2 linked regions of the Homo sapiens genome follow. The protein of the gene in region 2 purifies or fractionates together with the protein of the main gene of each other region. This does not show direct contact. Each region holds a gene or a part of one and is shown on either strand. Other genes may lie near its edges.

Region 1 (3,653 bases), on a different chromosome or scaffold from region 2:
GTTTTGTTTTACAGTGGTTTGTTCAAACATGGATTCAGATAAGGTCCACACATTTTAGTCTGTAATAGTTTCTTCTCACCCTCTCTCACCTTTGTTTTCCTTCTATGTCATTTATTTGTTGAAGAAACTGGATCATTTTTCCTGTTGTGGAATTCCATATTCTGGGTTTGGCTGATTATATGTTTCTCTGTCTCTCTTACTTTCCATGAACTGGTGGTTAGACATAAAGACTTTCAGAACTGATTGGTAAGATATACATTTATTTCCATTGGATTGGAAGTCATAATATCTGATTATCCCCTTTTTTTTTTTTGGTCATGTTGAGATTGATTATAGTAGTTCAGCTGTTGTAAGTCTATTCCACCCATAAAGTTCCTCAGCAAACTTTAACCTAATGGTTTTAATAGTCATTGATGATGTTTAAATCCATTTCATTAAATGCTGCAAAATGGTGATATTCTAATTTTTTAAATTCTAACTTCTGCATTCGTTAGCTGGAGTTTTTTCTACAAAGAGGGACTTTGCCATATCAGCTATTTGCTTCAATTGTAATATGTAATGAAAAGGCAGGATTAGGTGCTTGTTTACTCATTTGCAGAATAATAACATTCCTTGAAAGTGACCAGTGGGGTTTTAGGGTTTTTGTTTTGTTTGCTTTCTTTTCATTTTGTTTTATTATGAGATCATGGTTTTTGTTGTGGTTGTTGTTATTGTTGTTGTTTTGTATTGGTTATATTTTAGTCCACTCAGTCCACTAATATCACTTAGTTTTTATTACGGAAAAATTTCAAACACTCTCAAGTAGACAGAGTTGCACCATACAGTGAAACCTCTTATGTTCATTCTCTAACGTCAACAGTGATCTTAACATTCAACCAATCTTATCTTCATCTATACCTGTACTCCAGCCCCACTTTCTTCTGCCCTTATTTTAGTTTGATGCATATCCAATCAGTGTTCAAATTTAAAATGGTCTAAAATATTTTAAAAATCAGATTGCTTGAATCAAAATTCAGATCTACCACTTAGTACAGTTTATATTGTGATATGTCCTTGAGTATAATCTATGGACACCCCCTCAACTCTTGCAATTTATTTAAGTAAGTTGAAACATTTAGTCACTAGAGATTTCCACGTACTAGATTTTGCTGATTTCATTTATTTGGTATAGTTTAATGTATTTTCTGTAAATTGGTAGAGTCAAAAAGAAATAGAGCGTGGGCCTAGTTGGAAAGACAGATTTCATTCAGTACTATTGCAATAGGGGAAAATAGAACCAAGTTCCATTTCAGAATACAACAAAGACACTTGGGGATGAAGCAGAGTGAGAGGGTCAATGGATGGAAACTTTCTAAAAGGAGACATCAAAGGTAGAAGGTTTCTTTCTGACCTGACTTAGGATTCCTGCTAAAGGCAGGCCAAGGTGATCATAGATCCAGAGTGGGAGATAGTTTAGGAGGATTCTTACTATATATAACTGAGCTAAACAGACTGATGACGGGGCTCAAGGACAAATACTAGTTGATTGCTCAGAGCAGCCTGCTTAAAAGTATGGTCAAGGAGAGAATCTTTAGTGTAGAATGGTGATCAGATTTAAGTTTGTTGTCCTTTGGTTCTTGTTTTCTTTCTGAAAAGCAAGACCTGCTTCAAAGGTGGTGGTGTGCTCTCTTGCACTAGGAGGTATATTATGTCTTGTATTCAGGCTATTTGCATTTCAGATTACACAGTTTTATGTAACTGCTTTAACTTTGTGTTTGTACTGAATATTAGTTTCTTGATGGCAGAGAACATATTTCACTTTCAGAATGTTTTTCTGCTTACATGGATTTATTTTCAAGAAATTTCATACAATACTTTATTTAGAAGAAAGCAGAATTTTCTGAAATCACAGTATGCAGAGGCATTTACCATCAACTCTGACAAACATCCTTCTGGTCCCTTTTCTATGCATGTATTCTGTGGAATTGGATGCAAACACATATTAAAAATATATACATTTGCCTAATGGAACCACAGCATACAGAGTATTTTATAGTCTGCTTTTCCATTCAGTGATATTCCAGGAAAATATTTTCTTATCAGTGTGTTTAGATACACATCCTTTCAATAGGTCATCATTTAAATTTCTACTGTCTAACATTATTTTAAAAGTAAGTTTTTCTCTAATAATCAGCACCACATTAAACATACTGTGTAGCTTTCACTTTAAAATTATTTTTATGGACATTTGATATCATTAGCTTGACATTATTAATAACAGTTACCTTGACTTTTTGATATCATCTGTACTGTCTTGGAAAGTGAAAATATTTGTCAAACTGTTAAATGATAAGAAAGAATAATTATACACTGCCAAGCAGAATTTCCTTCTTTTGCTCCCTCCCCACCTTCTGCTCCAATCACATAAATAAGAGCTGTTTTTTCTTTGCAGTATGCATTGCCTCAGGAACAAAGGTGGCTCTGTTTAATCGACTACGATCCCAGACAGTTAGTACCAGATACTTGCATGTAGAAGGAGGTAATTTTCATGCCAGTTCACAGCAGTGGGGAGCCTTTTTTATTCATCTCTGTGAGTATAAAAGTGTGCATTTAATGTTTTTAGTGTGAAATTGTTAAAATCTTTTGATGAGATACATGGATATATTAAGTTTTGTCATTTGCCTAATCATAAAATAAATTTAAAAAGATGACAATTTGATTTATTTTTCCACCTACTGCAGTGGATGATGATGAATCAGAAGGAGAAGAATTCACAGTCCGAGATGGCTACATCCATTATGGACAAACAGTCAAACTTGTGTGCTCAGTTACTGGCATGGCACTCCCAAGATTGGTATGGCTCTACTTTTGCTTTAGTGATAATGTGAAGTAAAAATTAATTTCTTAAACAGGAAAATCACAACATTCAAATGGAAAAACACACCTCAGTTTTATGCTTTTTAATTTTAAAAGGTATGTTAGTAATCAGTGCTGTTTATAATTGACAGTTATGCTCTACCTTATTTCAGAAATGCTTTAAGGTAATAGCCAGTTTTTACAAGTACATTCTTAATGATTTTTTCTTAAATGATTTCCAATATATTTTGGTGGCAATTTCCTTTTTGGCTGTTTATCTGAAGATGTTCAGTAGAGGGCACTATAAATTACATTTCTTTTCTTTACTAATGCGGATAAACCGTATTCATTTTTTTGTGGTACCTGCCATATCCCAATGTAGGACCAAGTTTGCAAACAGAAGACATTCTTATTTCTTTTGAAATATAAGCGTAATTTTTGTTAGCTTACTCTCTCACAAGAAGATAGATTTATTAAAACTGAAATAAAATTGGTATTTCTAACTGGGAGCAGGGCATAGGATTTAGGGCTTTTGTTCAATAGAAGACATTGAAACTCGGCCACGCATGGTGACTCACACCTGCAATCCCAGCACTTCAACAGGTGAAGGCAGGAGAAGGAGAAGTGACTAGCCCTGGCATCACTTGAGCTCAGGAGTTCGAGACTAGTCCTGGCAACATGGTCAGACCGTCTTTACCACTGACCCCGCCCCCCCAAAAAAAAAATTAGCCAGGCATGGTGGTGCACACCTGTAGTCTCAAGCTTAAGTGGGAGGATCACTTGAGCTCGGGAGGTCAAGGCTGCAATGAGCGGTGATC
Region 2 (3,653 bases):
TATACTAGGTTGATCCTAGCCCTGAACAAACTAATTAGAGCATGTTAGAGTGTAAATGACATATGCTTTAGAACCACACAAACTTTGAGTTAAAGCCCACTTGCTAGCTGTGTGACCCTGGGCAAGTTACTTAGTCTCTCTGAGTATTGCTTTCCTTATTTATAAATTAAGGGTAATAATACCTTTCTAATGGGATTGTTGTGCAGATTAAGGGAAATAAAGTAACCATATTCAAGTGTTTGATATGTAATATATACTCAGTTATGTTAATTTCCTTTTCTTGATTAGTCTACCTAGAAATCTTCAGGCAGGTGAGAGAGCAGCCATAAGTGAGAAGAGAAGATAGGAGAAGTGATAGAATTTTCTATCTAGGAAATGTTTTCTTGCCTCGTGTATTTTACAGTTATGCTGAGAAAACATTGAATAATTTCAGTGGGTCTGCAGCACTGGGAAAGCCACACTTTGGTAGATATGGTCTCTCACTTCAGAGACAAATCAACAAGGATATGAGGACGAATGATGAATGCTTTATGTTTCTTTTTTAATGTATTAGTGTGCTTATATGGCCCTTAAGACTTTCTCTGTAAATTTTAAGGCTCATAAAGTATAATCTGATTGCTAGTTTGTGAATGAAGTACTTTAACAGTCACAAAAAAACTTAAACATGTTGCTGTTTAGACAAGCTCCCCTTTCAGCATGTAGTAAGCCATACTTTTTCTACAAATTGTTGTTTATTGAGTTGTTACTGTAACAGGCACTTTCTAAACTTTTATATGCATTATCTCATCCCTTCCTGTGAGTTAAGTGCTATTGTCCCCATTTTCTAGATGAGAAAATTGAGGCTCAGGTAAGTTGCTGAGGTCACATAGCACCCAGTGACAGAATTGGCACTTGAGCTCAGTTTTGTCTGCTTCCAGAGCCTAAGCAATTAACACTTTCGTTTTGGTAACGAGATTTAGTTACAGGAAACAGAAGAAATGAATTCCCAGGAAAATCAGTGCTTAAAGTATCTCATATGAGGAATGATCATCTCATGACTTTTGTGTGTCCACATAAGGTTGCTACATAGGCTTGGATGCAAAGCAGTGGAATTATAGGAAGAAAAGTAGATGAACAATAATAGCATATCTCCTTAGGCCTGAGAACTATTCTAATTACTTACTTAGAGGATAATAGTGATGAAGGGGTTGGGTCTGTGAAAAAAAAAAGAAACTAGAGATTTGTTCCCAGCTTTAGACTTGTGAGTGTTTTCTATCTTGCTTAAAATTGTGCACACTCTGATCATCTGTAGCTGCGAGGAGTTGTGTGTGCATGCATGTGGAATATTTTGGCTTGCTCCAGAAAATAACAATGCTTTAATCTTAGGTACTGTGAATAACTTCTTATGATATTTGAAGGAATCTGTATCCATTGACCTATGAACCACTCATGGGAACCACTGATCTCTAACCTAATTGATCTGCTCCTCCAGAAATATTTTATTTTGTTGTGTTTGTGCTACTGAGAGTTTTATTATAATCCAGATTGTGCTTCATTTGTGCTCTCTCTGTGCCATTTTTTTAAAAAACTGAATCTTGTGTGTAAATAGAAGAAACATTTAAATATCACATCACTTTTTATGAGAAGCATCATTGGATTCATATTTCTTATTTTTCCTTTTTATTCCCTTCTGTCTTTCAGCTCCAGGGTTCCTTGAAAAGAAAACAGGTAGTTAACCTATCTCCTGCCAACAGCAAGCGACCCAATGGCTTTGTGGACAACTCATTTCTTGATATCAAAAGAATTCGTGTTGGGGAGAATCTCTCTGCAGGACAAGGTGGCCTCCAAATAAACAATGGACAAAGTCAGATTATGTCAGGGACCTTGCCTATGAGCCAAGCACCCCTGCGAAAGACTAACACTCTGCCATCCCATACACATTCTCCTGGCAATGGCCTGTTTAACATGGGCTTAAAGGAGGTAAAGAAGGAGCCAGGAGAGACTCTGTCTTGCAGTAAGCACATGGATGGCCAAATGACCCAAGAGAATATTTTTCCTAATAGGTACGGAGACGACCCTGGAGAACAACTGATGGATCCTGAGCTGCAGGAACTGTTCAATGAACTGACCAACATATCTGTGCCTCCCATGAGTGACCTTGAACTGGAGAACATGATCAATGCCACCATAAAGCAGGATGACCCATTTAACATTGACTTGGGTCAGCAAAGCCAGAGGAGCACACCTAGGCCCTCCTTACCCATGGAGAAAATAGTGATCAAAAGTGAATACTCACCGGGCTTGACTCAGGGCCCCTCAGGCTCTCCTCAGCTGAGGCCCCCATCAGCTGGCCCCGCATTCTCCATGGCCAACTCTGCCCTCTCCACTTCGTCTCCAATCCCTTCAGTCCCTCAGAGCCAGGCTCAGCCTCAGACAGGCTCCGGAGCAAGCCGGGCCTTGCCAAGCTGGCAGGAAGTATCCCATGCCCAGCAGCTCAAACAGATAGCTGCTAATCGTCAGCAGCATGCCCGGATGCAGCAGCACCAGCAGCAGCACCAGCCTACCAACTGGTCAGCCTTGCCCTCTTCTGCTGGACCATCACCAGGTCCATTTGGGCAGGAGAAAATCCCCAGCCCTTCTTTTGGTCAGCAGACATTCAGCCCACAGAGCTCCCCCATGCCTGGGGTAGCTGGCGGCAGCGGCCAGTCGAAAGTAATGGCTAACTACATGTACAAGGCCGGCCCCTCAGCCCAGGGTGGGCACCTAGATGTCCTCATGCAGCAAAAGCCTCAGGATCTCAGTCGAAGTTTTATTAACAACCCGCACCCAGCCATGGAGCCCCGTCAGGGCAACACCAAGCCTTTGTTTCATTTTAACTCAGATCAAGCGAACCAGCAGATGCCTTCTGTTTTGCCTTCCCAGAACAAGCCTTCTCTCCTACACTACACCCAACAGCAACAGCAGCAACAGCAGCAGCAGCAGCAGCAGCAGCAGCAGCAGCAGCAGCAACAGCAGCAGCAGCAGCAACAGCAACAGCAACAGCAACAGCAGAGTTCAATTTCAGCTCAACAACAGCAACAGCAGCAGAGCTCAATTTCAGCCCAACAGCAGCAGCAGCAGCAACAACAGCAGCAGCAGCAGCAACAACAACAGCAACAACAGCAGCAGCAGCAGCAGCAACAACCATCTTCTCAGCCTGCCCAATCTCTACCAAGCCAGCCTTTGCTAAGGTCACCTTTGCCACTTCAGCAAAAGCTCCTACTTCAGCAAATGCAGAATCAGCCCATTGCAGGAATGGGATACCAAGTCTCCCAACAACAGAGACAGGTAAGGGCTCTACTACTCCAAATACAGAGTTCCCAGAGACCATTTAGCTTGATCTTTATGCTGTGGTTACCATTATGTTTGTATTGGGACAAGATCAAGACCAAAGACAGTAGTGGTCTTGATGGAGTCATATGAAGACCTCATAAAGCCTGGTTCGTTGAGGGCATCTAGAGGCAAGGACTAGTACTTCCCTGTAGAGCATTAGTATCATTGTGATCTGTAATGATCAAAGGTTCTTGCTTACTCAGAATAGAGCATTATAATGTATGCTGTTAGTGACATATCCAGTTGTCAATCAGATGGTCACTTATCCAAGCAGTAAATTAGTCATTAAGTCAATGTGCACT

The links. The genes of interacting proteins can lie anywhere in the genome.
Region 1: the proteins of MAML2 (region 2) and RBPJ purify together in Homo sapiens (affinity purification with western blotting; one study listed by BioGRID and IntAct). This does not show direct contact.

Annotation. Positions count from the first base shown.
Region 1 is NC_000004.12:26,421,911-26,425,563, forward strand, and holds part of RBPJ (recombining binding protein suppressor of hairless), read left to right. Parts: intron 1-2,431; coding exon 2,432-2,569; intron 2,570-2,720; coding exon 2,721-2,833; intron 2,834-3,653. UniProt on the Homo sapiens protein: Transcriptional regulator that plays a central role in Notch signaling, a signaling pathway involved in cell-cell communication that regulates a broad spectrum of cell-fate determinations.
Region 2 is NC_000011.10:96,091,545-96,095,197, reverse strand, and holds part of MAML2 (mastermind-like protein 2), read left to right. Parts: intron 1-1,680; coding exon 1,681-3,306; intron 3,307-3,653. UniProt on the Homo sapiens protein: Acts as a transcriptional coactivator for NOTCH proteins. Has been shown to amplify NOTCH-induced transcription of HES1. Potentiates activation by NOTCH3 and NOTCH4 more efficiently than MAML1 or MAML3.